Linked DNA regions of Homo sapiens. The main gene of each other region encodes a partner of the protein of the gene in region 2 in a complex. Each region holds a gene or a part of one and is shown on either strand. Other genes may lie near its edges. The genes, in order: GSK3B and FRAT1. A codon is read from its position in the direction of its gene.

The links.
Region 1: the proteins of FRAT1 (region 2) and GSK3B are in contact, whole or in part, in a crystal structure (PDB 5OY4), measured with the Homo sapiens proteins. Residues at the interface, in NP_005470.2 of Homo sapiens: His200 (codon at 6,278), Leu202 (codon at 6,272), Leu203 (codon at 6,269), Leu206 (codon at 6,260), Val207 (codon at 6,257), Ser209 (codon at 6,251), Gly210 (codon at 6,248), Asn211 (codon at 6,245), Leu212 (codon at 6,242), Ile213 (codon at 6,239), Lys214 (codon at 6,236), Glu215 (codon at 6,233), Ala216 (codon at 6,230), Val217 (codon at 6,227), Arg219 (codon at 6,221), Leu220 (codon at 6,218), His221 (codon at 6,215); in NP_001139628.1 of Homo sapiens: Tyr216 (codon at 8,890), Ile228 (codon at 8,854), Phe229 (codon at 8,851), Ser261, Gly262, Val263, Asp264, Leu266, Val267, Ile270, Lys271, Thr275, Pro276, Ile281, Tyr288, Thr289, Glu290, Phe291, Lys292, Phe293, Pro294, Ile296.

The regions. Positions count from the first base shown.
Region 1 is NC_000003.12:119,903,884-119,919,830, forward strand, and holds part of GSK3B (glycogen synthase kinase-3 beta), read right to left. Parts: intron 12,292-15,947; coding exon 12,161-12,291; intron 8,928-12,160; coding exon 8,821-8,927; intron 1,970-8,820; coding exon 1,872-1,969; intron 1-1,871. UniProt on the Homo sapiens protein: Constitutively active protein kinase that acts as a negative regulator in the hormonal control of glucose homeostasis, Wnt signaling and regulation of transcription factors and microtubules, by phosphorylating and inactivating glycogen synthase (GYS1 or GYS2), EIF2B, CTNNB1/beta-catenin, APC, AXIN1, DPYSL2/CRMP2, JUN, NFATC1/NFATC, MAPT/TAU and MACF1.
Region 2 is NC_000010.11:97,309,397-97,326,328, reverse strand, and holds FRAT1 (proto-oncogene FRAT1), read right to left. Parts: upstream 7,059-16,932; 5' UTR 6,876-7,058; coding exon 6,036-6,875; 3' UTR 4,414-6,035; downstream 1-4,413. UniProt on the Homo sapiens protein: Positively regulates the Wnt signaling pathway by stabilizing beta-catenin through the association with GSK-3. May play a role in tumor progression and collaborate with PIM1 and MYC in lymphomagenesis.

The DNA.
Region 1 (15,947 bases), on a different chromosome or scaffold from region 2:
AGAAATGCTGAATGGTTGTGTAAGAGCAGAGACCAGGAAACTACAGCCCATTGTCTGTGTGAAGCCCATAAGCTAAGAATTAACAGATTTGCCATCAATTTGATGATTAGAAAGTACTAACTTTGAACATCAATTAAGAGAAAGGTTATATTTCCCCAAAAAGAACTCAATTCTTCTGGTTAGTAGAGCTGTATTTAAAAATAAAAATAAAAAAAAGACTCAATTATTATACCTCTAACTTCATCAATAAAAAAATTTGTGAAAATGTGTTTTCTCTTTTGTTACTGAAGTACCTATATGATATCCTCGATTTTGCCTTTTGGCCCACAAAGCCTAAAATATTTTATCTAGTCCTTTACAGAAAAAGTTGGCCAAGCTCCGTATTCAAGCATTAATTTACATGATGGGGTAGGCTTTTAGAAAATAAAGAAAGCAAACTATTCAAATTTACATCTAAGTGTAGCACAGAAATGAAAAAGAAAATAGTTCTGTTAACAAGTGTAAAAGATTAGATAGGAAACTCAAAAATGGTACCAAAAAGAAGATGCAAATACCACAGTGGTCTAAGCTGCAAATTGTAAGAAATTATATGGATAATAAAGAAGATCGCTTATTACACACTAGTCTTTTCAACCATACTTGCACACACTGACATCTAGCAAAACCACCTTTGATTTTTAAAATTCCTATTTTTATAGAATGAAGTACAAGGATTTGAAAAGAACTTGATCACAGTCCTATGTTCAACTGGTAGAAGCTACTGAGGAGTTACAGCTCAGTACAATAAAAACTAAATTCAAGCTGTCCAATACAGAATAAGCTGCATCCCTAAGTAGTAATCTGATGCTGGAAGTGTTCAAGAAAATACTAGAAAACCATTTGTTAGGAATGTAACTAAAAGGTTATTTTATTGTACATTGGACAACATGACCTCTAAGGAGATTTTTCAATTTTACAATTCTATGCAAAATTTGGGATATCACAAACAAAGCCCCAGAGACAGTAGGTGTTGTTGCTTTGTCCAAACTGAAACCTTAGAATGAAACAATCTAGTGATATAAATCTAGACACTAGGTTTTTTTTTTTTTTTTAAGTAAAGGGACTTCCTTTAAGATCTCAAATATTTAAAACTTAAAAAAATTACATTTAAAAACTCAATTAAAATCTCAGCTCTACTGTTCTTAAAAGAAAACATATATTCTAAGATAATATTTAAATATTTGTTAATAAAGGTGTATGTATGCAAAGCTGAATGAAAGCAGAAGCTGTGTCTGAGCAAAACCAGACATATCTTTATTCAGCTTTAAATAAAATTTAAAATAAATAAAATTATATTAAATTCATATAGACCCAATAAATAAAATTATATTAAATCCATAAGTCAAAATTTTGTTTCTATCAATGATCTAGCCAGACAGGTAGGCATTCATTCTTTCATTTTATAAATACTGAATAAATATAAATAGTGACCAAATACAAGTATCTCCTATGTGCTCCACAGAGTATTAGGAGCAGGGAGTATACAGTGAGCAAAAGCAGACACAGCTTCTGCTTTTATTCAGCTTACATACATTTTAGTGAGCTTATAGTCTAATTTTGCTTTTAAGTACTTTAAATAACAGATATATACCTTTCTTGCATCAGATATACATAATAGCTTTTCTAGGATCATACAAGAGAAGAGTAACTCAAATAAAAACCAAAAGGCTGGGGGGGCGTTCTTATACCCACTTTATAGCTGAACTTGCTACGTGACCTTGGATTGCTTCCTCCATTTTTTAAGTTTCTCGTATGTGTACATGTGTGATATATATTATTAAAGTAGCACAAAAATTCCTTCCAGTTCAAATATTCTGATTCAACCTTCTCACCTTGATTATTTCTACCAACTGATCCACACCACTATCCCCTGGAAATATTGGTTGTCCTAGTAACAGCTCAGCCAACACACAGCCAGCAGACCATACATCTAAAGAGAAAAGAAAACGAAGCCTTATTAATACTTCATAGCTTGAGCTGAAAAGTGTTTGTATACGTTTTCTAATTTTACTTTGATCACAGAGTAAATATCACAGGAAAAGATTATACAATCCAAAACAGAGAAAAAGTCATCAAACTTCCTTAATGTACTTTTTAATTAAATGTTAAACTTACCAAAGAGGAAACCAGACCAATAAGAATATTCTAATAAAGGGTAAAGTCTATTATTATCAAATTTCAGGTATTCAAGTCTTCAAATAACTAGACAGAGGATTACAGTACCAAAGCTATGGCAGGACTATCTATTTATCTTACTTAAAAATAAGTCAAAGTGACACAACGTCTGCATATTAGTAGGTACTTACAGAGGAGCAGCAAGGAAAGGTTCAATCTCTCCCAGACACTGGGCTTTAAGTCAGTGCAAATTCTGAGGAACACTTTTAAGACTTTAAATGGTTGATTTTTATGTTCTACGATGACTGACAGAAAAATGTGCTTAAATATATCATTTTTAAATAAAATGGAATAGCAATGATGGAGGAATACATTTTACTTCATAAATTATAAAAATAATCCACTTTTAAGTCAAAATGAAAACCTCAATCCGGAGAGAAAACTCTAAAAATTAACTCAATTAATACACTTTAAAAATACTTTAAAGTATACATCCTGGTTTACCCAGGATAGTTATGGTTTATATGTTGTCCTGGGATAATTATTAGTAACACCTCTTTCTCTCTCAAAAGTATTATCGGATTAGAAGATAAACCGTACGGTCACTCTATTTTAAAGCCCGCTATTAAGACTTCCTACAAGAAAAGGCTGCTTTTTAGCTTCCAGATTTCTGAGATTCCTAGGTTTTTAATGTACCAACACTCAAGTGCTTTAGGGAGACGAATATGAATCATTGCTGGACTTTACCACCTACCAGTACGGAAGGAGAAGAAGGAACAGTAAATGGTTGACAACAAAAAATTTTAAAGGTCTGATGTGGTGAGATGTACTATCAAGAGAGACTGGAAATCGTTGCTCCAGTGACTACTTTTTATTGACCTAGAAAAATGACATAGTATCATTTAACAAACTCGAGTTGATTTTGTCCAGTCCTAACTTAATAACCAAGACATCTATTCTGCAAATATAGACCAAGAGTCCTATTTAATATATTAGGAAATTGCTAAATTAAGCACATATGAAAACTTGTTAGGGAATCTTTACTCAAAGCCAATAGTAATACTAACTGTTATAGTCAAGCGGAAAAGATGTATCTCCTTATTTATGTAAATGCTTATTTTAATCTAAGTTTTAAAACATCCCTTTACCTAGTTAATAAGATGGAAGGTAATATGCACTCAACTTTTTTCCTCTCTAATACGGAATGATTCATCTCAGATACAAGGCTGAAAAAATTGTAAGGGAATAATTATGCCTTCATAAAAAACAATAGGAAACACTTTCTTAGGTAAGATTTAGCTACAAATATGGAAGACAAAAAGTAAAACATCAAGGAATACTCTTGCCTAGAAGTTATCACAGAAGACTGACACTCAAAAGATTCAGGTGACAACTATACTAGCAGCCCTCAATTCATGTTACATCAGTCAAGTTAGTAAAAACAAGGTACTTATCAATCACTTTCTGGAGGACACTAAAATCTCTTCTGCTCTTACTTCAAAGGACAAATGGATGAAATTCTCCAGATAGAATAAAACTTCAACTAAATAGAAGGTACCGGAAAAATAGAAATAGTGCTTTGGCACACTGAATTTTAGTTAGTTGGGGTTAAAGCCAGAATAGCATTTTGTTTCATATTTAACTCGGGTTCATGTTAAAGTGATCTTTCAAGACCATCTAGTTTAACACACTTATTTCATAGATAAGGAAATTAAGACATGATAAAGTTAAACGACTTGCCCAAGGTAAAGGTACTGAATAGTAGAGCTAGGCCTGGAATCATTCTCAATTCCCAATCAAAACACCACTCTCTTGAATAACTGTCTCACTGTCACAGAATAACAGCTTCTTCAAGGGTCTGTCTGTAAGTTCAATTCCTTGTTCTAAGGAAGCCTTTTGTTCTCATTCTGCCATTTGTCAGTAAGATAATATAATCAGAGACATCAGCTTTACCTCTGGCTGTATCTAAATATGACAATAATCTTGTCAGAAACAGTTACTCTTTCATTTCAAACATTACTGTTAAAAACATTTAAAAATGTAACAATATTAGTATACTTTTTGGGAGGGTCTGTTTAAAAACATTACAGTCTTAAGAGGCAAGTATCCTAAGTTTATAATGGGAAGCCAAACCTAGGCTTGCTAGGGTTCAAAAGACTCCTGTTTATATAACTGTTCCTTAATGTGTGAGATGATGTGTTAACTTTTTGAGAACAATCAAACTGCCTTTATTTTAGGTGTTTCTGGCACAGCTCACACCAGTATCTTATATACAGATAATCAGTATCATATATTTGAATAAAATGTAAAGCAGCTGGAAAATCCAATGACATACCCAAAGACAAGGGGCTGAAATTTGCTCTTGGGGAGAGTCAAGTCTAAAAATGCCACAAAAGAATACCACCTTTCATTTCTACAGTATTTTCACTAACATTTTATTTAAGCCTCACAGCCACTCAGAAAAGAACTGTCAGTAATCTCCACTTTACTTCAAGTGACCTGACACTCAAACCCAGGTCGACCACAAGCAAAATATTCTTTGTACTATTTTTCATCTGTCCATTCATATATGCCATGTACCACAGCCATACTAAGACTCTGAGAATTACATACACATACATATACACATTATTATGCTCTCTACCCTCTGGTAAAGCAGATGTCAAAGTGTGGTCTACAGAGGACACTTTGTACTCTTTGCACCTGGGTCCTCTAGACATTTCTAGATGTCCCAGAGGGCAAAACTCTTTTCATAAGAATACACCTTCACTGGGTTAACATTTGTACTGAGGGTACAAAGGAAATGGTGGGTAAAACTGCTGGCCTCTTGGCAGAAATCAAAATGTGCTTTGGCATTTTGCCATTTGGCAAAATAAAAAATGATAATGTGTTTCTGATTAGGGTGTTTGCTTGTATCAGAGAATTTCTATTTATATCAAAAAGACAAAAAAACTGTCACAAGGTCTGTTCTATTTTTTGTTGTTGCTGTTGTTGTTTTGAGAGGGGGGGTCTCATTCTGTCACCGAGCTGGAGTGCAGTGGTGGAGTCTCAGCTCACTGCAACCTCTGCCTCCTGGCCTCAAGCCATCCTCCCACCTCATCCTCCCAAGTAGCGGGGACTACAGGGGCATGTCACCACGCCCGGCTAATTTTTGGTAGTGACAGGTTTTCACCATGTTGCCCAGGCTGGTCTCGAACTCCTGAGTTCAAGTGATCTGCCCACCTCAGCCTCCCAAAGTGCTGGGATTACAGGTGTGAGCCACTGCACCAGGCCAGGTCTGTTTTTTGTTTGTTTTGGTTTTCTGTTACTGTGGGGATGTTTTTGGTTTATTATTTGCATGCTTTTGTTTGTTTCTGGACTAAAGGAATTCTCTTCAGAAACAATATGTAAGAGTAAAATAATTTTGGTTTCCACTTGCACATCCAGCTTAAAGTTGCTCCTTGTTTGTTAGCTTCCTATTCATGTCCAGCTGATCATGCTCTCTCTGTTCACTCCTGGCTAGTGGGCTAAGATGTAGTAAAAGAGAAGGTCAATAATGATTAAAGCTAATGGTCTCTATTCAGTTCCTTCTATCACTAAACATCTTGGGTGACGACTTGAGAAGGTCAATGATGATTAAAGCTAATGGTCTCTATTCAGTTCCTTCTATCACTAAACATCTTGGGTGAAGACTTGAGAAGGTCAATGATGATTAAAGCTAATGGTCTCTATTCAGTTCCTCCTATCACTAAACATCTGGGGTGAAGACTTGAGAAGGTCAATGATGATTAAAGCTAATGGTCTCTATTCAGTTCCTCCTATCACTAAACATCTGGGGTGAAGACTTGAGAAGGTCAATGATGATTAAAGCTAATGGTCTCTATTCAGTTCCTTCTATGACTAAACATCTTGGGTGCATACTTCTGCAGAATCAGTGCATCTAGCAAAACTACTAGTGATTTAAGCTGATTTTATATTAAATAATGGAGATGGCATGAAGGAAATGTTAGCAATATGGCCATACTATCACTTTCATTATTAACTTAATGAAATAACATTAATTAATAAATTATCCAACTAGTATAATCATGCTCAGAAGTATTTCAGGAGGATTTTAAATAAGAAAGTAAAAAAAAGTTACTTAGAATTAATTTAAATTCTTAAGGTAAAAGCTATTAGCTTTATGATTCTAACAGTCCAAGGAAGAAAAATAGAATAGTAGGTATACCTTAAATTCTAAAAAGTAGAATTTGAAAAATTCTATACAGGCATACGTCAGAGATGTTGCAGAACTGGTTCCAGACCATAACAATAAGACACAATAAAGCAAGTCTCACCAATTTTCTGGTATCCCAGTGCATATAAAAGGTATGTTCACTCTATACTGTAGTCTATTACTTGTATAATAGAATTGTATAAAAACATAAATGTAATACATTAACTTAAACACACTTTATTACTAAAAAAAAATGCTAATGATCATCTAAGCCTTCAGTGAGTTGTAATCTTTTTGCTGGCAGAGGGTCTTGCCTTGATGTCGATGGCTGCTGACTGATCAGGGTGGCAGTTGCTGAAGGCTATACGATGTGGCTGGAGTAATTTCTTAAAGTGACAATGAAGTTTGCCACATCAACTGACTCTTCCCTTCATGAAAGATTTTTCTCTAGTAGGAGATGCTCTTTGATAGCATTTTACCCACATTAGAACCACTTTCAAAATGGGAGTCAGTCCTCTCAACCCCTGCTGCTGCTTTATCAACTACAATTATGTAATATTCTAAATCCTTTGTTGTCATTTCAACAATATTCACAGCGTCTTAACCACTAGTAGATTCCACCTCAAGAAACCACTTTCTTTGCTCATCCATAAAAGAAGCAACTTGTTTATGTTTCATCATGAGATTGCAGCAGTTCAGTCACATCTTCAGGCTCCACTTCTAATTCTAGTTCTCTTGCTAGTTCCACAACATCTGCAGAGACTTCCTTCACTGAAGTCTAGAATGCCTCAAGGTCACCCATGAGGCTTGGAATCAACTTCTTCCAAAATGTTGTTCATGTGATTGAGTCACAAATGTTCTTAGTGACACCTAGAATGGTGAATCCTTTCCAGAAGATTTAAAATTGACTTTGCCCAGATCCATCAGACTAATCACTATCTAGGGCAGCTATAGCCTTACAAATGTATTTCTCAACCTTTGGGTGACCAGTTGCACTGTCCATAAGCAGTAATATTTTGAAAGAAATACTCTTCTCTGGAGTAGTAGGTCTCAGCAGTGGGCTTCAAATATTCAGTGAACCATGCTATAAACAGATGTGCTATCATCCACTCATTGTTGCTCCATTTATGCAGCACAGGCAGAATACATTCAGCATCATTCTTAAGGGCCCTAGGATTTCTGGAATGGTAAATGAGCAGTGGCTTGCACTTAAAAGTCACCAGCTACATTAGGCCCTCACAAGAGAGTCAACCTGTCCTTAGAAGCTTTGAAGCCAGGCAATGACACTTCTCCTCTCTAGAAGAAGTCTTCCATCTCTAGAAAATCTAGAGATGAAAGTCCTAAACGGTATCTTCTTCCAATTCAGTAGAAGGCTATTTGGTCTCCATTAAAACTCTGATGTTTAATGTAGCCACCTTCATCGATGATCTTAGTTAGATCTTCTGGATAACTTGCTGCAGCTTCTACATCAGCACTTGCTGCTTGCCTTGCACTTTTATGGCATGGTGCAGCTTTTTACCCTTAATCCTCATGAAATAACCTCTGCTACCTTCAGATTTTTCTTGTGTAGCTTCCTCACCTCTCTGTCTTCACAGAATTGAAGGGAGTTCAGGCCTTGCTGGGTTAGGCTTTGGCTCAAGTGAATGTTGTGGTTGGTTTGATCTATCCAAACCACTAAAACTTTCCCTGTAACAGCAATAAGGCTGTTTCACTTTCTTATCATTCATCTGTTCATTGGAGTAGCACTTTAATTTCCTTTAAGAACTTTTCCTTTCTGGTCACAACTTGGCTAACTGTGTGGCACAATTTCGATATGCCTTCCTTGCTCAGCTTAATCATTTCTAGCTTTTGATTAAAAGTGAAAAATGTACCTTTCACTTGAACACTTAGAGGCAACTGCAGAGTTATTAATTGGCCTAATTTCAATATTGTTGTCTCTCAGGGAATAGGGAGGCCTGAGGATAGGAAGAGAGATGGGGAATGGCCAGCTGGTGGAATATTCATAACATACACAACACCGATCGATTAAGTTTGCTGTCTTATATTGTTGTGGTTTGTGGCAAACCAAAACAATTACAATAGTAACATCAAAGACCACTGATCATAGATCACCATAGCAGATACAATGAGAATGTTTGAAATGTTGCAATAATTACCAAAATGTGACACAAAGACATGATGACACAAAGACATGAAGTGAGCACATGCTCTTATAAAACTAGTGTGGGCAGACTTGCTTGACTCAGGGTTGACACAAACCTTTGAGAGGTTAAAAAAAAAAAAGCAGTGCCTGGAAAGTATAATAAAATGAGGTATGCCTATACATGTTTGCATCTCAAGCTTTAAGAAAAAAAACATTATGGGATATATCCATCTTTCCATGGAAATAAAAGTACAGATTAGTAGTACTAAATTACCAAAATCAAGAAGCAATTAATAATTATGAGCATTATATTCAGATTTGTACTTACCTATACTAGAGGTATAATCAGTGGCTCCAAAGATCAACTCTGGTGCCCTATAGTACCGAGAACAGATATACGAAACATTGGGTTCTCCTCGGACCAGCTGCTTTGCACTAACAGAAAAAAAATAAAAATAAAAAGCAGAAATTCTTTAAATCTAAACCTTAAAGAACTTAGACTGCTATCCTTTCACAGTATCAAATGATTTTATAAGATTCACATCATTTGAATCATATATGAAAAAGAAAATGTAAACTGTAACTATCTCTAATAAAAGAAATTTACAATTTTATCACCTTGCTCTGCAAAAAAGAATAGCAATTTTTAAAGAAAGCGTTTGTCACCTAAGAAGGCACCAAAAGCAAAAAAGGATAAGTGTTGAATTTCTTCTGATCCTCTGTTCCCCAAATTCCACCTCTAAAATACAAAGAAGCAAGGGCAGAAAAGAGGTACCTCCCCCACCAAAAAGCATGACAATGGATTCTAAGAATGAATACTCCTCACCCAATGTATTTCTTTAAAAAGGGTGAGAAACTGGCCACTGTCTTGCATTTTGACTTCTGACTCACGGCGAATATTTCAAGGCTTATAGACTCAATCTATTTTTCCATATCTTGGTCAATTTATTAACCACATAAACATTTATTACCCAATAAATTATAAACAGGCCCTTCAACTTCAGGGCAGAAATGATTCACTGCCTATAAATTCTAACTCTGCTATAGTAAGTATAATTGCATGTTTTCTTATTCCAATTTTCCTACTAAAATACTTCATTGCATGTATTTTAAATATGAAGTATAATAAATTACAATTAATTTCTTTTGAGATGTCGCCCAAGATAATCCAAAGACAGAATAAAATAAACTGCTGTAGAAGCCAGCCATTCTGACATACATTAATAATAAAGATAAATAAAGGGACAAAATGCAACAAAATCAAAACAGTAAAACAGTAAGTGCCAAAAAAAAAAAGTAAAGGTACTGGAAAACCAGGGTAAAGACAGATGAAAGTAGTCACAAGGATTTCAATGACTGGGATTTCTTTTCTTCCATTTATTTCTAGTCAATGATGACTCTAACCTTAACTTCTTTTTCCTTCATCACTAGTTTTGAAGTTTGTTTTTTAACCCTCTCCCCAAGTACTGACATACAATAACCATTTCATAAATTAATAAATACTAATCCCTGTTTTTAGGCTGCATGAAAATTATGACATTTAGTTTTCAGCATAATTGATAGGAGACTGTTATATCTTCTAAAGGATGCTTTTTAATTAACAAGATAGATGCTAATTATGTTCAGAAAATTCATTACGAGACAAAACGTTAATACCCAAGCTTTGTAGCCTGAAGTTTTTTCACTACCTGATGGAGCTACAAAAACGGAGCAGCCTCTCTTACAGAGGAGACTGGTTTTAACTACTTCCCAATATTGTGATCACATCTAGCTTTTTGTTCCTAAATAGCCCAACTAGTTCTTTAGCTACTTTTTGGCCCCTTTTCATCTAGTAAAAAAATAAGAAGAAAGTAATAGTATTTTGTTCAAATTACCAATCTGATAATGTACAGTCCAAAGTGTTTCCCAAACTCCATCTGACCAAACCAATTTTGTTAAAAACAAAAAAATCAGAGGGTTTATAAAAATGAGCTATCAAACAAGCGAAATCCCTCTTCCAAATTTATCAGAATAAAGCTATTTTATGTCCCAAGAGAATGGGCTGTACCAAGTGTTTTGACACTATATGAGAACAGAAGCTCTTCTAACCTTGGTGTCTCAGTCTGTCCCTACCAAGTCAGTCACTCTCAATGGTGAAGACACCCCATTAACAATAAAACATATCTGATTTGGGCAGTTTTTCCTATAGACAAGTAGTAGTGCTTTGTTTCAAACACCAGGTAAGAGTTTTACTATCTTTCACCCTTTTTAAAAATAGTTCAGGGAACAGAGTCATGGCCTGCAAAGTGATAGGTCATCTGAAATTAGAAAACAGTAAAATGAGGACAGTCTGAAAGAGGACACATTGTGAGACTAAGAAAAATTAACTCATGACAGAACAGATTTACTTATTTTTTAAAGGATCTGTCTCAAGAGAAGCCTGTGGAAAACATATCCTATGTTAAACCCCAAATTTAAACTGTGAATTGATGTAAAAGTATTACAAAGGGATAGGAACACAGGTATTAACAAGTGTGGGGCAATATGTTATCTATAGAGCTATGGTGAAAAGAATCTGTAACAAGGGTGAAAAAATTAAATTGGAGAGAATCCAAATTATGTAAAGATGTCTTAGGGACCATGAGGAGAGAGATTAGGTGATTACACCAGTGAGGAAGTAGCGGGGTAACTGCCTGAGTTACATGGGAATGTAGGCTTGACTACATGTTAAAAGGTTAGATCAGAGAGGCACAAAGTACTGAAAACTGAAAATGGAAAGAATAAAGTTGTATTACAAATTCACAGTATATTACCAAGAAATGAGCTTTTAAAAGCAGAAAGTTTGATGAAATTTGCAGGAAAAAGGGTGGAATAAAAGGTTAAATTATAGAGGAAAATGAAGAAAACACTGCATTGTTTTTTATCTCATCCCTGAATTGAGGTTAATTGTGAAGTTAAAAAGATACACAGGAATGTATAATAATCAATATTTTGAAAAAATTTAGTTCTTACTGAAAAAGGAGTATATATACCTAATGTAAATTCAAACAATACTAAAATACAATCAATGAAAAAGTGAGTTTCCCAACTACATTATATTCCCAAAGATCCTTTCTCAGGCAATCAAATATTATGGATTACGTACCATTTCAGAAATAAGCCACACATGTACTTGTGTATATATGTGTGTGTGTACATATATATATATATAGTCACATTCTGTATGTTTTTAAAACATAAAAGGTGGCATACAATACATATACTCTTGATCTTGCTTTCTTCATTTAATGTTTCCTAGACATCATTCCCTTTCAGTTCACAGAGAGTTGCCTCATTCTTTTTCATGGTTGCATGTATTACTCTGCATGTACCGTAATTTATTTAGCCATTTTCCTACTAATGGATGCTTATAAACAATGCTATAATAAAAATCCCTATATATACACTGTATTGTAAATATGTATTCCTAAGGAAATAATTCCTAAAAGTTAAACTGTTAAATGAAGGAGTATATACATTTATAATTTTGACAGAAACTAACAAAACTACTCTCACAGCTGCACTAGTTTATACTTCTTGAATAAGAATTACTGTGTTTAGGCTGATATTGCAAAAGGAATATATTTAAAAGAAGATAGTAGGGGGAGGAGGGGAAAAGGGAAGGGGCAGGGAGAGGGACAGTAGCTTACCTTCCAAAGTCACAGAGTTTTAATACAGCAGTATCAGGATCCAACAAGAGGTTCTGCGGTTTAATATCCCGATGGCAGATTCCAAAGGAATGGATATAGGCTAAACTTCGGAACAGCTGATACATATACAACTGGAATAGATAGTAGAAATTAATTAAATACTTCCTATTCTAAACAAATCAGAATCCTTAAGCAGTCAATAAAGTAACAGATTCTCAGAAAAGAACAGGTGAAATGCTATGGATTACTGGCACTCAATCTTCCTTTCACAAGTTTTGTGTCACTTCTGTATTAATTAGCTATTTCTATATGAATTAGCTAAACTGTCATTAACCATATGTACTATTCGCTTCATTCTTTAATAACTCAAAAGAAGAAAATTTTACAATGTGCTTTATAACTTTTAATTTTACTAACATCTCACATTACAAGCCTGCTAAGATGGGCTTTTATTTAAAACACAAATGAAAAGCTCAGAGAGGCACCCCAAATCATGAATAATCAGTAACTTTGGGCCAGAAACCAGGTCTCCTGATTTTTAAGTTTATAGTTCTTTCTAGTAGAGCATGCTGCTGAATGTAAACGTATTTCCAAAGTGTGATCTTTAGAATATTCTTCTGAGATGTCAGCCTCCAAGGTGATTGATACAGTGGTCTAGGAAAACTCATGTGGACTGAGAAAATCTGTAATCACTGCTCTATCAAGACATCAATAACCCTGTTAGTAGCATCACCATTCTTCCTGTTAATATCCTTCAGAAAAAGTATAATTCAAAATGACATTCAAAAACAGATGCCTGACTATTGACATCATCTTTCAAAAGAGAAGACTTTCTCAGTTTTCTTACCAAAAAGATACACTGAGAAACTGGGTCTGCATGGAGTAAAGAATCAGACTCTTGACTGGAGGAGAGAGAAACTTCATGGACGAAGAGAGTATAATTTAAACCTTCTGTTTATCTCAAGGTCAGTGTTCTGATTCACTTTTAAACTTTTCTGGCTGTTTACCTTCTGACCTCTACCCCAAAGTTACACCATGGACAGAATTTTTGAAATGAGTCAAACCAAAGATAATAAATATCTTGGTAAAAAAACAATTAAAAAAAAAGATACTTAAAAGTCTAATGAAGCATTGACATATGGCACCATCTTTAAAAGCTACTGCTAAGGCTTAGGTTAATTAAAGTTAACATGAAACCTACTTTCATTCTAAGAAGCATGGTGAAAACTGCAGACAGCTGAATTTTAGTACATCCTTGAAGTTAATGTGAACTATTAGCTGGAAAAGTTTATGTTTTCTTTAAAATGAAGCAAGATGTAAACTGTACAGATAAGATCTTTTATAAGGTCAGCATTTTGCCAACAAAGTTAAAATTAAGGCATTTAGGTATCCATGTAACATTTTTTAAAAACTTCATAGTTCTATTATTGTACCATCATTCACAGAATCCATTTCTAAGTCCTAAAGCTTACTGTAGGAGTTTAATTCATTACCACTAAAAAGATAACCTCCCATAAGAAACTGAGTTCATAGGCATAAATTTACTAAAAAAAGAGATTTTACTGTGTCAGGGTATTGATGTCTAGGTCTGCAAGAATCAGTGAAAACGAGTTTTCTTTTTTTTTTTTAAAAAAAAAAAGCTTAATCGTTTAAATGAGGTTAATTTTAAGATGTCTTTTTACTGTATTCTTTCATCTGAAAGATCTACTCTATCTTCATTGTTTTGAAAAGTTTATCTAGAAAAGTCAAGATAAAGAATGAAATATGCAATATTATATATTTGTTGTTATTTCACTTTGTAAAAGTGTATTTATAAGAAAGCTGAGAGGCTTTCTAGACTAGAATGATAGCAAAAACAAGAACAGAAAAACAACTTATCATGGGCTGGGCACTGTTCTAACTGCTTTATGTGTATTATTTCACTTACTCCTTATAATAACCTTATGTAATAAGTACTAATATTATTACCATTTTAAATATAAAATAACTGAGGCCCAGAGAGATTAAGCAACTTGCTCAATATCACACACACACAATATTCTGTAGTGGTTTGAGTAAGTGCTTCTCTTTCAATTACTATTTATGTATTTTGCCATATTTTATTAAATAAAGGTGTAAAATATAATCATTAAATAGCTTGGTGGAGGCCGGGCGCGGTGGCTCACACCTATAACCCTAGCACTTTGGGAGACCAAGGCAGGCGGGTTGCCTGAGCTCAGGAGTTCGAGACCACCCTGGGGGCAACATGGTGAAACCCCGTCTCTACTAAAATGCAAAAAATTAGCCGGTCTTGGTGGTGCACGCCTGTAATCCCAGCTCGGAAGGCTGGGGCAGGAGAATTGCTTGGACCCGGGAGATAGAGGTTGCAGTGAACCCAGAATGCACCACTGCACTCCAGCCTGGGCCACAGAGCGGAATTCTCTCTCTCTCAAAAAAACAAAAACAAAACAAAACAAAAAAAAAGCAGTTTGGTGGCTAAATAAAAGACTAGAATGATTAATTCTTAGAAACTCAAATATAATTAACACACTTTAAAATATAACAGATTTAACATATACTAAGTGCCAAACCAAGAAAAGCATTTCTGCCTATTTGCCTATTTGTTTAGTTAATTCTTGCAACCACTCTGAGATACACATTATCCCTGTTTTTACAGAAGATATTGAGGTTCAATGAAAACAATTTTTTTTATTTTTCATTTTATTCAAAGTTGGTACAAAACTGTTAACATTTCCATAAAACAATTACTATGCTTCAGTTACAGGACAAAATATCACAGAAAGGAATGTATTTTGCAGTTGAGCACAATTTGAACAGTTAGTTATATTTAACTCAAATCCAATGCCCTCTTCTCTGTGCCATAATATCTGAAGTAATAAAATAATAAAACAATAGAATACATGTTAAAACAAGTAATAACAATTTTGTTCATGATTCAAAAAATGCATCCAACTCTCTTGTGTGATCAGACCCTGTCCTTAAACATGTATTTTCAATTAAAAAAAAATTAAGTTCACAACAATGATTTGCCAGTCATCTGTTTTAGAGTTGCATTTTAAAACCTACTTAAGTTCTGAAATATACTCATCAGAAAAGCAAAGGTGCTCAGTTTTTAACCTGTGTATTACTCATAGAAAATACTCAACTCTCCCAGAAAAAGTGAAAGGCAATTATAAAGAAATGCAGTTGCCATTCTGGTAACATGTATGCCAAACAAGTCCTTATCAGATGATGAGGTTCATGAAGGCAAGAGTTACTTGCATTTACTACTTTTATATCGCTCTCACAATCTAACATTTTTCATACAATAGGATTACAATAAAACTATGTAGAATGACTACGTGAAGGAGATCAACTCATAACTCATCAATTCCAGACACTGTTTTTATCTTTTCAGATAAAAGGGATCGATGTCCCCAAAGAATAATGCCCAGAGCCAATAGATCTGGCCTCTGAAAGCGCTGTGGTTACATAAGAAAAAAAAAAAAGAAAAAAAAAAAAAAGAAAAATCATCCCTTTTCCCACAAGGGGGAGAAAGAAAGGAGTGCTAGATTTCTCTCTGTATGCCAACTTCAGTATGTACAATAATTTTATTTTCTTTTTTAAAATACAGGATGCCAGATATCTAGCTCAACTATTTGCTGGCAAAAATACCGTAAGTGCACAGGGTTGTTCACTATAGCAAAAACCAAAAAAACCACAACAAAAAACAAGAGGAAAACAATATGTGCATTATTGGTCACTGGGTGAATTAACTAGAATACAGCCACATGATGAAGTAATATGG
Region 2 (16,932 bases):
AGGTGCTCTACCCTTACCCACATTTTGCAAATGAGTTCATTGAGCTTACTGAACCTGTCCCATATCACACAGCCGACAGTGGAGGGCTGCCTGCAGACCCCCCACTCTTACCTATTATGTCTTTTGGGTAACACTGGTAGGGGCAGGTCAATTGCTCTCCCTTCAGTTATGATGGAAAACCAGGAGGAAACACTACTCGGAAGAGTTTTGCCCCTTTGCCTGCACCAGCTTTCACAGTGTTCAAATGGAGCGCACCTCGGAGTGGAAACCTCTCTGAGCTTCCATCTCTAAATGAGGCGGTAGCATCAGACTGCTGAAAGCTGAGCTCTCCGGGGGCTGATGGTCTGTGATTACTGAGCATTGGTAGAAGTGGGGGCTAATTGAGTGAGTTAGTAATTTCGTTGCCAAGGTAACTCTTTCCTGATTGGAAGGAAGGGATCACAGGTTTCAACATAGACTTTGCTAGATAGGAAAGTGGTGTCTGATCTTCGCTCCAGCTTTCTGCATCTGAGCTGGAAAAAGAGCAAAAACGGGTAAAAATTGAATCCAAATATTGTCGGATGTATGCCTAATTTAGAATGAAATCTTGGGGTGGCAGACTCTGGAGTTCTCTGTGAGGTGTGGCATTCTTTTCTCTAAATCACTTATTTGCCAATGTATGTGTCACTTTGTTTCATTCCATTTGTAGCTTTGTTCTCATATCTCACCCAGGCCATTTTCTGTGGCCAGCTGTCTTCATAGGATGCTGAACATTTTGTAAGGAAATGGCATTCCCTAACTCAGCCTAGGAACTTGGAGCAGAATTTTCCAGGGTTCCAATGGCAGGGTCACCAATTTGGGCAATTGTAGGGATGTCATTCCCATGGTAGCCTATGTGCAGAGTTGTGCAGTGAACAATATTGGACCATGTTTGATGATATGGAGCCACTGGAAAGAGCCCTGAGTTGGGAGCTGGGAGACCTAGGTTCTAGACTCTGCTAGGCCTCTGGCTTCATAAACAACTTTGGTAGGTCATTCTTCCCTGCTCACTTCCTTGGACTATTTTTCCACCTATAAAATGGTCTAATATGACTTTTTTTTTTTTTTTTTTTTTGAGACAGAGGTTTTGCTCTTTTTTGCCCAGGCTGGAGTGCAACGGTGAGATCTCAGCTCACTGCACGCTCCACCTCCTGGGTTCAAGCGATTTTCCTGGCTCAGCCTCCTAGTAGCTGGGATTACAGATGCCCACCACCACGTCCAGCTAACTTTTGTATTTTTAGTAGAGACGAGGGTTCCCCATTTTGGCCACGCTGGTCTTGAACTCTTGACCTCAGGTGATCCACCTGCCTCGACCTCCCAGAGTCCTAGGATTACAGGCATGAGCCACCACGTCTGCCCCAATATGACTTTTAAAATACTTTATGTAAATCCTGGCTGGGCGAGGTGGCTCACACTTGTAATCCCAGCACTTTGGGAGGCTGAGGCAGGTGGATTGCTTGAGCCCAAGAGTTTGAGAACAGCCTGGGCAACATGGCAAAACCTTGTCTTTATAAAAAATTTTAAAATTATCCAGGCATGGTGGCACGCACCTGTAGTCCAATTACTCAAGAGATGGGAGAATCACTTGAGTCCAGGAGGTGGAGGTTGCAGTGAGCTGAGATCTCACCGTTGCACTCCTGGGTGACTGACTGAGACCCCGTCACAAACAAACAAACAAACAAAAAACCCCACACTTTATGTAAATCCTGACTTATCCCAAAAAAAGTATTTTGGGGTGAATAGTAAAACTTGGCAGGATTTGGCTGGGTGCGGTGGCTCATGCCTGTAATCCCAGCACTTTGGGAGGCCGAGGCGGGCGGATCAGGAGGTCAGGAGATCGAGACCATCCTGGCTAACGCGGTGAAACCCCATCTCTACTAAAAATACAAAAAATTAGCCGGGCATGGTGGCGGGCACCTGTAGTCCCAGCTATTCCAGAGGCTGAGGCAGGAGAATGGTGTGACCCCAGGAGGTGGAGGTTGCAGTAAGCCGAGATCATGCCACTGCACTCCAGCCTGGGTGACAGAGCGAGACTTCGTCTAAAAAAAAAGAAAAAACTTGGCAGGATTTGAAAAAAAAAAAAAAAAAAAAAACAGGCCGGATGCGGTGGCTCACGCCTAAAATCCCAGCACTTTGGGAGGCCGAGGCAGGCGGATCACCTGAGGTTAGGAGTTCCAGACCAGCCTGGGTAACATGGGGAAACTCCGCCTCTACAAATATACAAAAATTAGCTGGGCGTGATGGCGGGTGCCTGTAGTCCCAGCTACTCAGGAGACTGAGGCGGGAGAATCACTTGAACCCAGGAGGTGGAGCTTGCAGTGGGCCGAGATCACGCCATTGCACTCCAGCCTGGGTGACAGAGCAAGACTCTGTCTCAAAAATAAATAAGTAAATAAGATAAAAAATAAAAACACAGATGAACGGTTACTGGATTATAATGTGTTTAGAGTGCTAACTTGCTTTATGTAGAGAGGCTTTAGTTTTTCCCAATTTTCCTTTTTTAGGAGTGGGTTGTTCTGCATGGGCCCTAAGGTTGAGTCTGAACTTAACCAGTCATTCTTATTACAAGAAGCTATGCACAGTCGGTGCAGTGACATCAAATCATAGCCTATTTCAGGATGGAAAGCCCTGGATTGCTCATAACCCCTTGACCTTGGATAAATCGTACATCAACTAAGAATGGGAACTGGGGACTTCAGGGCTACTCCCATGCCAGGGGACATCAGCACCTGGCCACTTTCCCCTCATGCTCAGCGCCCAGAGGTGGTGCCCACTACACTATTGGGGGCTCCTTTTCCTCAGTTTGTATTAGAGCCTCCATAGTTACCCTTCCCATGCTGGAGAACACTGGACTGAGGCCCCCACAGCCCTTTCTGGGCATGTTGTGGGAAATGGCAGGCTTGGTGTGTTCTGAAGGTACTCCTCAGAGACCATCAGCGTCTGTGTGTGAATTTGAGAAAATGGGGCATTGAACCAAAAAGGAAGTTAGAAAATCAGGACTCGAAGTCATAGAACACTCCAGAAAGCAGATTTGGGATCATGGCATGCTCTTGTTTTGTGGGAAAATGAGGACACCTGGGACACCGCCACCTGGGAAGGAAGGGGTAGGGACTAGATACTGTTCATCTGCAGCATGTGCCAGTCACCATATGCCTTTTATTAATTTATTTTTTTGAGGCAGGGTCTTGCTCTGCCACCCAGGTGGGAGTGCAGTAGCTCAATCATGGCTTACGACAGCCTCAAACTCCTAGGCTCAAGCAATCCTCTTGCCTCATTTATTTATTTATTTTATTTTATCTTATTTGAGACAGAGTCTCGCTCTGTCGCCCAGGCTGGAGTGCAGTGGCGCGATCTCAGCTCACTGCAACCTCTGCCTCCCAGGTTCAAGCGATTCTCCTGCCTCAGCCTCCTGAGTACCTGGGATTATGGGCATGCACCACCATGCCCAGTTAATTTTTGTATTTTTAGTAGAGATGGGGTTTCACCATGTTGGTCAGGCTGGTCTTGAACTCCTGACCTCGTGATCAGCCCTTCTTGGCCTCCCAAAGTGCTGGGATTGCAGGCATGAGCCACTGTGCCCGGCCATTTATCTATTTATTTTTGGAGAGGTGAGGTCTCACTATGTTGCCCTGGCTGGTCTTGAACTTCTGGGCTCCAGCAATCCTCCACTTTAGCCTCCCAAAGTGCTACTAGGATTACAGGTGTAAACTACTGGGCCTGGCCCACCTTTTATTTCATTATCCCTGTTGTACGGATGAGGAAACTGAAGCCACAGAGGTAGAGCAACTTGTCCAAGGTTCCCTTCCCACTTCAGAAGTGGGCTTAAACTCTGGGTACTCTTTCCTCAGAGGGAGGAAATTAGCTCCTTCCATGAGGGAACAGACTGAAGTAAGTCAGAACCATAAGGATAGACATGGCCTGTTATGTCACTGCTTAGGGACAGAATGGTATAAATGTGCCAGGGGCAAAGACAGGAGTCTTTTGTAAGTTTCCACCCAGCTTTCCTACCACCAGGCTCACATTGTGAGCAGTCTCCTAATCAAGAGCTGCCCCAGCCTTAAGGCCCACCTTGTGGAACAAGTGCACTTAATGGCCACGGTGAGAAAGAAGAAAAAAAGAAAAAGAAAAAAAAAAAGATAAGCCTCCCAGTTTGCAGTGACTGGCTGATCTGATGTCCTTTGCTAATAGAGGCAGCTTTATAACACATCTCCATCACTGACTAGTAATCCAAAAGGCTCTGAGGTTTTAACGAATGGGATTGGTCCAAAACCTGACCTCACTTTCATTTAATTTCATGCCAGCTCCAATACACACCCAGCTGCGGAGACCTTGTCTAGCTAGTGAGCTGCTCAGACACAAAGGCGCTCTAATTACCATCCACAAGCCAGGCTGACAGAGATTTCAAGTGTTTTCATGTTTATGGAGATCAGAGAAATGTGTTCTGTACATCTTTTTCACTGATGGCAAGTATAAAATAAAACCAAACAAAAAACCCAACACATTTATTCAAAGCAGGCATTTCAGTTAAGTTAAAATCCTATAATCAGGATAGCCACAATTCCAGACACTCCGGTGCGAAGTGTAGATATGTCAGTAGCCACATCTGGATGATGAACAAGCCATTGACTATAAAAACGAGAACAACAGCACAGTCTCAGCGCCTTTAGAGTGAGTGAACAGTATGTTCCAAGCACTTCACCATGGTTCACAATGGCAAAGCCTGCAGCTTCTCCATTTGGAGGGTCACATTTTCTACTCGGTTTCCTGCACTTACAAAGGCCAGCTGGCATGGCTGGGGGAGGGGCAGAGGGAGGAAATCAACTCGTCTATCCAGGGAATTGCAGCTGTTATTGCAAATGGCCCCGGAGAGCCCATTATAAGCTGCTGTGCTAGGCTGTGTGTCCCTGGAGTGTCCATCACATGGCGTCTCCCTAGCCCCCAACCCAGGCCCCCAGGATCCCAGAGCCACCCGCTTGAGTAGGACTGCAGAGCCGAGTAGGAGAGGAGGAACCCAGGGCCCGGTCTCGGGAGTTTCCGTGAAAGCCCGGAGCGCGGCCAGGGGCGGTGGTCGCCTACCGAAGCACAGCCGCCCAGCACGTCCGCGCTTTCCCACACCCGCGGTGGCGGCGACGCGCGTGTCCTCAGGAGACTCCAGCACTTGCAAAACACTGCGCTCTTCTCCGAGCACCGGCAGAACCTGGCTACTCTGTCCCGCAACCCAGTGCGTGCCCAGGAAACAGTGACCTTGAACCGAGGAGAGGCGGGCCGGCTCTGAAAATACACTTTAGACAGGGCGTGGGGTTCACTCCGCGCCTCTCTACCCTTCCACCACCATTCAATACTCCCCGCCCCCACCTCCTTTCCCCACCCGTGTCGTACAGCCTTCCCCCACCACTCTGAGAAGAGAGACAGTTGCAAAGAGAGCGCAGGGGTTAACTCCTATTCAACCCCCAAAGGGTCCCTTCATGGCACCGCATGTTTGGTATTAAGCAGCACCTCCAAAGACACAAGATGGTTTTTTTAAGTCTGGCAGATTGGGCTGCACCCTGAAATTATCTACTCATGTTCTCCTCCCCCAAAGTGGATCAGGAGCCAGCCCTGAAAAGGTAAAGCAAGTAACTGGCATCATCCTCCGTGGTTCCGGCGCACCGCGATCCGGAGAAGCGTGGATTGTGGCCACATGGTCGCGGGGCTGGAGGGCACTGAGAGGCTGCGAGGAAATGCAGGCTCCGCGGCCAGGTCGGGTCACGCCAAATAAGGAGTCCTACTGACTTGTACGTTTGAGGTGCGCTCTGTAAAATCTGCCTTAAATAGGGCCAAAGTCCTTCATTCCAAATATTTTGGCCCTCAACCCCAGTTACCCGCGAAACACTCGCGATTTTTCGGTTCCTCGTCATTAGCTTTTTACTCTCGCTTCCAAAAGCCAGAGTTCTCCACCAGCCTGAGTAGAACTGCAGCCCTCAAGGGAACCCCTTGCCCTCCAGTCTGAGGCTGGCGCTGTGGCCACCCCGGGCGTGTTAGCTGCCAGGCACAAGAACGCCGTCGCCAGTTCTGAGCTGCGCCCTCCCGGAGGCGCCAGGGTCACTGCAGGCCGCGCGAGGGCTGCGAGGCGAAGGGGGTTCATGCACCGGGGCCGACAGAGGTCCCAGGAGCGGGCGTTGGGGAAGCTTTGCACGTAACTGCAGCCGTCGCGAATGAAGCCTTCGCACGGCCTCCTTGATGAGGTTTCCAGAGAGCACTAGCTGCTGCAGAAGCCGGTGCGGGTCGTCGTCGCCTGTGCGGGTTTCTGGTTGGGACCCGCGTCGCTGCTGCAGGCGGCGGGAGGCGGCGGCGCCCCGGAGCCATCCTCGCCGGCACGGACCCGACAGCGGCTGCGGGATGCCCTGCTTGCCAGCTCCCGGAGGCCCATCAAGGTCGGCCTGAGGGGGCAGTGGGGACAGCGCGCTGGGGCCTGTGGCGAGCTCGGCCACGCAGTAGGGCGCAGCGCGGCCCCGCACGCGGCCGCGGTCCCCCAGGGCGCAGCGCAGGACCCCAGGGGGCGCCGGGCCCACAGTCTCCGCCAACGCGGGCGGCAGCAGCAGCGGCACCGCCGGGGACCTGGCCTTGTCCGCCGGCACCGCCGCAGCCAGGGGCCCCGGGGCCCGCAGCGGCGCCCCCGGGGGCCCGCACGGCGAGGCCGGGCTGTGCTGCGCCGCGTCCAGCTGCAGCGTCTCGCCGATCTGGGCCACCAGCCGGTCCACCTCGCCCGAGCTGCCCAGCGCCACTGACTGCTGCAGTAGGAGGAAGCTGTCCTCCTCCTCTTCCTCCCCCTCCGCCTCCTCGCCGGCTTCCTCTTCCTCCTCCCTCCGGCACGGCATGGCCCCCTGTCTGGGCACCCGGAGCTGTGCGGGCGTCGCTGGGGGCTCGGCTGCCGGCGGGCGCGGTGGGCCGCGGCGGAGCGGGCGCGGAGCTGAAGACTAAGTCTGGACCGGGGCCGGGGCGGACGCGGAAGCCGGAGCCCGCCAGGCACTCTAGCCGCGCGCCTGCAGCCGCGGGAGCCGGAATCCTGCCGGCTCGGGTTGATTTGTAAACAATGGGTGACGTCACGTCGGGCCCTACCACCGCGCCGGGGAGGGGGTGCTGTGCCGCTGGGGGACGGCGCTTCTGTGGGATTGGGGGTCTGGGTGAAGCCGGACTGCCTTCTGAGCTCCTTCGCTCAGGGTGCTGTCTGCAAGGGCGCCCTGGGGACCTGATCCTGGCTCCCGCAGTCGGGCGCGATTGGCATTTCCAGAAATGGGCACCAGCGTGAACCCTGTTGGTTTCTTCCACACACAAGCAAGCACGCACACTAACACACACCCACCCACCCACACACCCCTTCTCTCCGTGCGTCAACTCAACCGGTTTTTAGCGTTTGCGCTTTTGAGGTCCGGCATGCGGGCGTCTGGTGAGGATGGAAAGGAAAGGGAGTCAGGCTAGGGATTTGTACGGAGATTAGGGAAATGAAGCTGACGGGAATGGAAAGGAAGAAGGGGACCTTGTCGTTCGATGGAGGTGGCAGAGTTGGAAATGGCAAAGAAAGGCCACAGATTAATGTTTTTTGATCGAGATCCTGGGCGGATGGGGGCCTGGACTGGGGTTGGCATTGCTGGAGAGGAGGTTGCTAGTCTTTTTGTTTATTTGTTTGTTTGTTTTTTTGAGACGGAGTCTCGCTCTATCGCCCAGGCTGGAGTGCAGTGGCTCGATCTCCACTCACTACAACCTCCGCCTCCTGCGTTTAAGCAATTCTCCTGCCTCAGCCTTCCGAGTAGCTGGGATTACAGGCGCCCACCACCACGCCCGGCTAATTTTTGTATTTTTAGTAGAGACGGGGTTTCACCATGTTGGCCAGGCTGGTCTCGAACTCCTGACCTCAGGTGATCCACCCGCCTCAGCCTCCCAAAGTGCTGGGATTACAGGCGTGAGCCACTGCGCCCGGCCTAGGTTGCTACTCTTTTTGTTTTGTTTTGTTTTTTTGAGACAGAGTTTCGCTCTTGTTGCCCAGGCTGGAGTACAATGGCGCAATCTCCGCTCACCACAACTTCCGCCTCCTGGGTTCAAGCAGTTCTCCTGCCTCAGCCTCCCGAGTTGCTGGGATTACAGGCATGCGCCGCCATGCCCAGCCTAATTTTGTGTTTTTAGCAGAGATGGGGTTTCTCCATATTGGTCAGGCTGGTCTGGTACTCCCGACCTCAGGTGATCCACCTGCCTCGGCCTCCCAAAATCCTGGGATTACAAGCGTGAGCCACCACGCCTGGCTATAGGTTGTTAGTCTTAAGAGGGGCTATGTCCAGAAAGTTGTTTAAAAAAAAGCCTCAGACCAGTAGGGGGGATGGGCTCTGAGGAGGTACGTAGTAGCAGAGAAAAATACCTGTTTGGATGAAAATGGAGATACGCTTCCTTCCTTCCTTTCTTCCTTTTCTTTCTCTTTCTTTTCTTTCTTTGACAGAATTTCACTCTGTCACCCAGGCTGGAGTGCAGTGGTGTGATCTGGCTGATTGCAGCCTTGACTTCCCAGGATCAGGTGATCCTCCCACCTCAGCCTCCCGAGTAGCTGGGACAATAGGCACGCGCCACTACACCTGGCTAATTTTTGTATTTTTAGTGGATACAGGGTTTCGCCATGTTGGCCCGTCCGGTCTCAAACTCCTGGACTCAAGCAATCCCTCCTCCCGAAATGCTGGCGTTACAGACATGAGCCACCGCGCCCAGCCTGGAAGCAACTTTAAAATTCTGAGCATGATATAGAAAATAGGATACAAAGAAAGAAATGAGCCTGGAGATCCAGATAAATAGAAAACGAGGGTCTTGTTGGGCAGTTCCAACGATAATAATTATAGGAGCAAACCTTTAGGAAGGGATGAGTGCAGGAAAGAGGTAGGGAAGTTGGTTTAAAAAGAGTTGGGTTTGTTTTTGTCAAGTGTGGAGGAAAAAATGTAAAAACAGAGGAAGAGACAGTTTAAACAAAGCCATTGGATTTCTAATCTACGAAATCTGGATTTCTACAGGGTGTCATAAGGTTCATCACCTTGTTTTTGTGGATTCCTTAGGATTTTCTATATAGAAGATCGTGTCATCTACAAATAGAGATAGTTTTGCTTCTCTTCTTTTTCTTTTTTCTTTTCTTTTTTTCTTTTTTTTTTTTTTTGAGACAGGGTCTCATTCTGTGGCCCAGGCTGGAGTGCAGTGGCATGATCTCTGCTCACTGCAGCCTTGACTTCCCCAGGCTCAGTTGATCCTCCTATCTCAGCCTCCTGAGTAGCTGGGACTACAGGTGCAAGCCACCATGCCTGGCTAATTTTTGTATTTTTTGTAGACCCAGGGGGTCTCACCATGTTGCTCGGGCAGGTCTTGAACTCCTGAGCTCAAACGATCCGCCCACCCCAGCTTCCTAAAGTGCTAAGATTACAGGCATGAGCCACAGCACCTGGCCCTGTCTTATTCCTGATCTTAGATGAAAACATTCAGTCTTTCACAACATTAGGTAGGATGTTAGCTGTGGATTTTTCATAGATAGTATTTATCAGGTTAAGAATGTTCCCTTCTATTCCTGGTTTGTTGGGCATTTGTTGTTGTTGTTGTTGTTGTTGTTATTGTTGTTGTGATGGAGTCTTGCTCTGTTGTCCAGGCTGGAGTGCAGTGGCACAATCTTCGCTCACTGCAACCTCTGCCTCCCGGGTTCAAGCAGTTCTCCTGCCTCAGCCTGCTAAGTAGCTGACACTGCAGGCGTGCACCACCATGCCTGGCTAATTTTTGTATTTTTAGTAGAGATGGGGTTTCACCATGTTGGCCAGGCTGGTCTTGAACTCCTGACTTCAGGTGATCCGCCTGCCTCGACCTCCCAAAGTGCTGGGATTTACAGGCATGAGCCACCAGACCCGGCCTACTTAAAATTTTCAAATGAAAATAATTAGTAGCAGTTTACAATTTGTGCATTTTTATCTTTGGCTCACAACTTATAAGCCTCATATATTGTTGTGGGCATGAAAAATGGTACAACCACCTTGGAAAAAGGCCTGACAGTTTCTTATAAAATGAAACATACACCTGTCCTGGAACACAGTTTCAATCCTGGATACTTAGCTAAGAGAAATAAACACATGGGCCCACATCAAGGCCTACAGGGAGGTGATCATAGCATATTTTTTTTTCTTTTTAATTGAGACAGGGTCTCCCTCTTTTGCCCAGGCTGGAGTGCAGTGGCACGATGTTGGCTCACATCAAAGGAGTTTTATTCATAAAAGCCAAAAGTGAAATGGCCCAAGTGTTCATCAACAGGTGAATGGACAAACAACCTATTGTACATTCACACAGGATGATGACAGAAAACAGTTCAGCAACAGAAAGGACTGAATATTGCTGCATGCAGTAACATGAATGAAGCTTAAAAACAGTATGCTAAGTGAAAGAAGCCAGATAAAAACGGATATATGTCATATGTTTCTGTTTATATGAAGTTCTAGAACAGGGAAAGTAACTTACGGTGGGGAAAACATCAGAAGACTGGTTGCCTTTGGAAAAGGTAGAGCAGGGGCAGGACTGACACTGTGACACTGAACAGACAGAGGGAACTTGCAGGAGGGTGGACATGTTCTAAATCTTGATATCTTGATTTGGGTTTCATAGGTTTAGGCATGTGTTAAAACTCATTGAGTGGGCTGGGCGCGGTGGCTCACGCCTGTAATCCCAACGCTTTGAGAGGCTGAGGTGGGCAGATCAGCTGAGGTCAGGAGTTTGAGACCAGTCTGGTCAACATGGTGAAACCCCGTCTCTACTAAAAATACAACAAGTAGCAGGGCATGGTGGCTCATGCCTGTAGTCCCAGCTACTCAGGAGATTGAGGCAGGAGAATTGCTTGAGCCCGAGAGGCAGAGGTTGCAGTAAGCCAAGATTGTGCCACTGCACTCCAGCCTGGGCAGTAGAGTGAGACCCTGTCTCAAAAAAACAAAAAACAAAAACAAAACAAAACAAAACAAAAAAACAAAGAGAAAAAAATTGTAGATTTTACATGAAGAGAATAAATTGTAAAGAAAGCTTGAATTATAGTAATAGACATGCTGATGAGTTTGGAGTGAGGTGTACTGATGTTTGCAATTTATTCCAAAGTACAGTAAAATGTGAGAAGGATTAATATAGATGGATTAGAAGGATAGTTAGACAGGTAGATATGTGATAAAACATGTATAGTAATATGTTAATGTTACCATATGACCCATCCATTCTACTTTTAGCTATATACCAGAGAAAATTGAAAACATATGTTCACATAAAAACGTGTACACAAATGTTGATAGCAGCATTATTCATGATAGTCAAAAAGTGCAAACAACTCAGATGTTCATCAGCTGATAAATGGATGAATCAAATGTCGTATACTCATACGATGGAGTATTATTCACCATAAAAAGGAATGAAGTACTGATACATGCTACAAAAGGAATGAATGTTGAAAACATTATGCTGAGTGAACAAATCAGACAGGAAAGGCAACATATTGTGTAATTCTATTTATATGAAACGTCCAGAATAGACAAATCCATAGAAACAGAAGGTAGATTAGTGGTTGCCAGGGGATGGGAGAAGGGGGGAATTAGGACTAACAGCTAATGGGTAAGAGTTTTCTTTTTGGGGTTATAAAAATGTTTTGAAATTAGTGGTGATGTTTGTACAACATAATGAATATACAGTACTAAAAACTATTGAAGTGTACACTTTAAAATGTTGAATTTTATGTTATGTGAAATATATCTCAATTTTTAAAATACTAGGATCTAGGTGTTGGGTAACAGGGTATTCTTTCAATTTTGTTGGCTGTTTGAAAAATTTTACAATAAAGTGTTAGAAACAATAAGCCATAGAAAAGGGGAAATTGGCTGGGTGCAGTGGCTCAGGCCTGTAATCCCAGCACTTTGGTAGGCCGAGGTGGGTGGATCATGAGGTCAAGAGATCGAGACCATCCTGGCTAACATGGTGAAATCCCATCTCTACTAAAAATACAAAAATTAACTGGGTGTGGTGGCGCACACCTGTAGTCCTAGCTACTCTGGAGGCTGAGGCAGGAGAATCGCTTGAACCTGGGAGGAAGGCGGAGGTTGCAGTGAGCTGAGATCACGCCACTGCACTCCAGCCTGGCGACAGAGTGAGACTGTCTAAAAAAAGAAAAGGGGGTCTGGGCGTGGTGGTTCACGCCTGTAATCCCAGCACTTTGGGAGGCCGAGGCAGGCGGATCACGAAGTCAGGAGATTGACACCATCCTGGCTGACACAGTGAAACCCCATCTCTACTAAAAGTACAAAAAAAAAAAAAATAGCCGGGTGTGGTGACATGCTCCTGTAGTACCAAGTACTTGGGAGGCTGAGGCAGGAGAATGGCTTGAACCTGGGAGGCAGAGGTTGCAGTGAGCTGAGATCGTGCCACTGCACTCCAGCCTGGTGACAGAGTGAGACTCTGTCTCAAATTTAAAAAAAAAAAACAACAACACACACACACACACACACACACACACACACAAAATTAGCTGGGCATGGTGGTGGGCACCTGCAATCCCAGCTACTTGGGAGGCTGAGGCAGGAGAATCGCTTGAACCTGGGAGGTGGAGGTTGCAGTGAGCCGAGATCATGCCCTTGGGCGCCAGCCTGGGCAACAAGAGTGAAACTCCATCTCAAAAAAAAAGAGAGAGAGGTTACGGGACTCAAACTGAGATGCTAAGAGATGAGGATGAGATATTAAACACCTCTCAGTAGGCCAGGTGCAGTGGCTTACATCTGTAATCACAGCAGTTTGGGAGGCTGAGGGGGGCGGATCACCTGAGGTCAGGAGTTCGAGACCAGCCTGGCCAACATGGTGAAATCCCATCTCTACTAAAAAAAAAAAAAAAGAAAAAAACATTAGCTGGGTGTGGTGGCAGGCCACTGTATTCCCAGCTACTTGGGAGGCTGAGGCAGGAGAATCACTTGAAACCAGGAGGTAGAGGTTGCAGTGAGCCGAGACTGTGCCACAGCACTCTAGCCTGGGTGACAGAGTGACACTCCACCTCAAAAAATAAAATAAAATAAACGTATCTCAGTAGATTAGCAGCTGAGGAAGCCATGGAAGGCAAAAGTTAAAAATGTCCTGAAGCTGCTGACTGGGCAGGAAAGATAAACCACTGGTTAGACAGTGGGGAGTGGGGGTGGGAGTTAGAACAGTTGGGTCTGGAAGCCAGTAGTTAAAATGACTAGATGGCTTCAGAGCTAACACTGATGGAGCAGTGTAGAATGTTTTGCTATCTGGTGCAATCTCGGCTCACTGCAGCCTCCGCCTCCGGACTCCAAGCGATTCTCCTGCCTCAGCCTCCTGAGTAGCTGGGATTACAGGCACCCGCCACCATGCCTGGCTCATTTTTGTATTTTTAGTAGAGACGGGGTTTCACCATGTTGGCCAGGCTGTTCTCGAACTCTTAACCTCAAGTGACCCGCCCGCCTTGGCCTCTCAAAGTGCAGGAATTATAGGCGTGAGCCACTGCACCCGGCCTTTTTAAAGTATTTTTAACACAGCATTGCCTGAGGATATTTTGTCATTTATAAAAGGAGAAAGGTCTCTAGGTTAGGGAGATAGTTCAGAGGGATGCACCCCTCAGGTTGGAGGCTGGAATAGTGTACCGGGTTGAGTAGCTTCCCCTAAATTTCTATCTACCCAGAACCTGTGAGTATAACCTTATTTGGAAATAGCGTCTGTGCAGATGTAATCAAACTAAAATGAGGACATACTGGATTAGGGTGGGACCTAATGAGGGGACTGGTATCCTTACAAAAAGAAGGAAATTTGGACACAGACACATGAGGAGAACACCATGTCAAGCATGTTGCCACAAACCAAGAAACACCAAGGACAGAGAAGCATGAGATTATTTTTTTATGGTTACAGCTCAGGCTGGCAGCTCAGTGATTGAGAACCTCTGTGATGGATGTTGGGTCATGACAGACCCAGCAAGATCTACCATTACAACAGGAATCAAGTGTGAATAGGCCAAGCACGGGGCTCATGCCTGTAATCCCAACACTTTGGGAGGCTGAGGCCGGGGTATCACTTGAGCCCAAGAGTTGGAGACCAGCCAACACAGCAAGACCCCATCTCTATCCCCTGCAAAAGAACGAGGAGATGGGAAGACAAGGGGTCAATAAATCTCTCATGGGGTGTGTGTGTGTGTGTGTGTGTGTGTGTGTGTGTGTGTGTGTATGCATATATATATATATATATACATTTTTTTGAGACAGGGTCTCACTCTGTTGCTTAGGCTGGTGTGCAATGGCACAATCATGGCTCACTGTAGCCTCCACCACCTGTGCTCAAACAATCCTCCCACCTTAGCCTCCCAAGTAGCTGTAACCACAGGTGTGCACCACCACACCTGGCTAATTTTTGTGATTTTTTTTGTAGAGACAGGGTTTCGTCATGTTGTCCGGTCTGGTCTTGAAGTCCTGGGCTCAAGTGTTCTGCTCAGCCCATCCTCCCACAGTGCTGGGATAATAGGTATGAACCACCGTGCCCGGCCCCCTCATGGTATGTTGATCATAGGTAAAAGACGGCCATGTTAGGACCAAGTCTCAGGGACCATGATGATGACTCCATGTAGGCTGAAGCAGTAAGTTCTCCCATTTCTGGGACTGTGCCATCCTTGCTACCTGGGTGACAATGGGAATGGAAAAGTAGATGCTCAAACTTGCCGCATGATTGCTTGTAGGTGTCTGGAGGAGGCAGTCTTTTTTTCTTCCTTTTTTTTTGAGGCAGAGTCTTGCTCTGTCACCCAGGCTAGAGTGCAGTGGCGCCATCTTGGCTCACTGCAGAGGAGGCAGTCTTAGATCCGCAGAAGCATGGTGTCCATATGGATGCCTGGGACAGCTGTGGTATCGACAGAGCTGTAAGTCAGGAGACACATGGTTGGGTATCATCATTCAGTATTTTTTTTTTAAGACCAGTCTCACTCTGTCACCCAGGCTGGAATGCAGTGGCTAAGTCATGGCTCACTGCAGCCTCAACCTCCCAGGCTCCAGTGATCCTCCCACCAGTAGCTGGGACTATAGGCACTCACCACCATGCCTGGATAATTTTTGTATTTTTTGTAGAGACAAAGTCTCACCATGTTGCTAGCCTGCAGTATTTTTTTTTAATTCTAGTTTTACTTATTTGAGTAGACACTACAGCCACATAGTTCAAAAGTCAAAAGGCAAACTATACTACATGTGTTGTGTGTCTTTTCAAAGATAGTTTATTTATTTATAGTCTGCCTCCATTTTACACAAGTAGTAGCTATAGCAGAGGCTGCTGTTTGCCTCCCAATAACCACTCTCCTCTTTAATAAACCCCAAATTGTAGCTGTACCAGAACCATAAGAACCCATCTCTATCCCCTGCAAAAGAACAAAGAGATGGGAAGACAAGGGGTCATTTGTCATCTTCTCTTGCAGCCAAATGGGGCCATGTGATTAAGTTCTGGTCAATGAAATATAAGTGGGCTATGTATGTATATAAATATATATATATATTTTTTGAGACAGAGTTTCGCTCTTGTTGCCCAGGCTGGAGTGCAATGGCTCAATCTCGGCTCTCCACAACCTCTGCCTCCCGGGTTCAAGCGATTCTCCTGCCTCAGCCTCCCAAGTAGCTAGGATTACAGGCATGCTGCCACCATGACCGGCTAATTTTGTATTTTTAATAGAGACGGGGTTTCTCCATATTGGTCAGGCTGGTCTCTAACTCCTGACTTCAGATTATCTGCCTGCCTCGGCCTCCCAAAGTGCTGGGATTACAAGCGTGAGCCACCGCGCCTGGCCAAATGGGCCATATTATGTGATACCTTTGGAAAGTAACCCTGTGAGGAAGGGGGCAAGCCTGTCTCTTTTTCTTTTATTTTGTTGCCTGGATCTTTTGAAGGCCCCAGACATGGTCCTGGACTGCCTACCTCTGGATCTTTTTTTTTTGAGATGGAGTTTTTGCTCTCATTGCCCAGGCTGGAGTTCAGTGGCCCGATCTCGGCTCACTGCAACCTCCGCCTCCCAGGTTCCAGCCATTCTCCCACAGGTGCACCACCACACCCAGCTAACTTTTTGTATTTTTAGTAGAGATGAGGTTTCATCATATTGGCCAGGCTGGTCTTCAACACTTGACCTCAGGTGATCTGCCTGCCTTGGCCTCCCAAAGTGCTGGGATTACAGGCGTGAGCCACCGTGCCTGGCCCTGTTTGTTTGTTTTTAAAAACACATTTTTTGCTTTCAGCTTTTGGCTCAGAAGAGGCCAAGGTGCAACTTTCTTTGGTCGTCCTGAATCCAGGTTCATCCAATACCAGCCGCCTCCACCATGCCGCCGAAGTTCGACCCCAACAAGATTAAAGTCGTATACCTGAGGTGCACCGGGGATGAAGTTGGTGCCACTTCTTCACTGGCCCCCAAGATCAGCCCCCTGGTTCTGTCTCTAAAAAAGGTTGGTGATGCCATTGCCAAGGCAACAGGTGACTGGAAAGGCCTGGGGATTACAGTGAAACTGAACATTCAGAACAGACGGGCCCAGATTGAGGTGGTGCCTTCTGCCTCTGCCCTGATCATCAAAGTTCTCAAGGAACCACCAAGAGACAGAAGAAACAGAAACACATTAAACACAGTGGGAATATCACTTTTGATGAGATCATCAACATTGTTTGACAGAGGCGTCACCAATCTTTAGCCAGAGAACTCTCTGGAACCATTGAAGAAATCCTGGGGGACGGGCACGGTGACTCACGCCTGTAATCCCAGCACTTTGGGAGGCCGAGGCGGGCGGATCACGAGGTCAGGAGATTGAGACCATCCTGGCTAACATGGTGAAACCCCATCTCTACTAAAAATACAAAAAAATTAGCCGGGTGTAGCGGCTTGCACCTGTA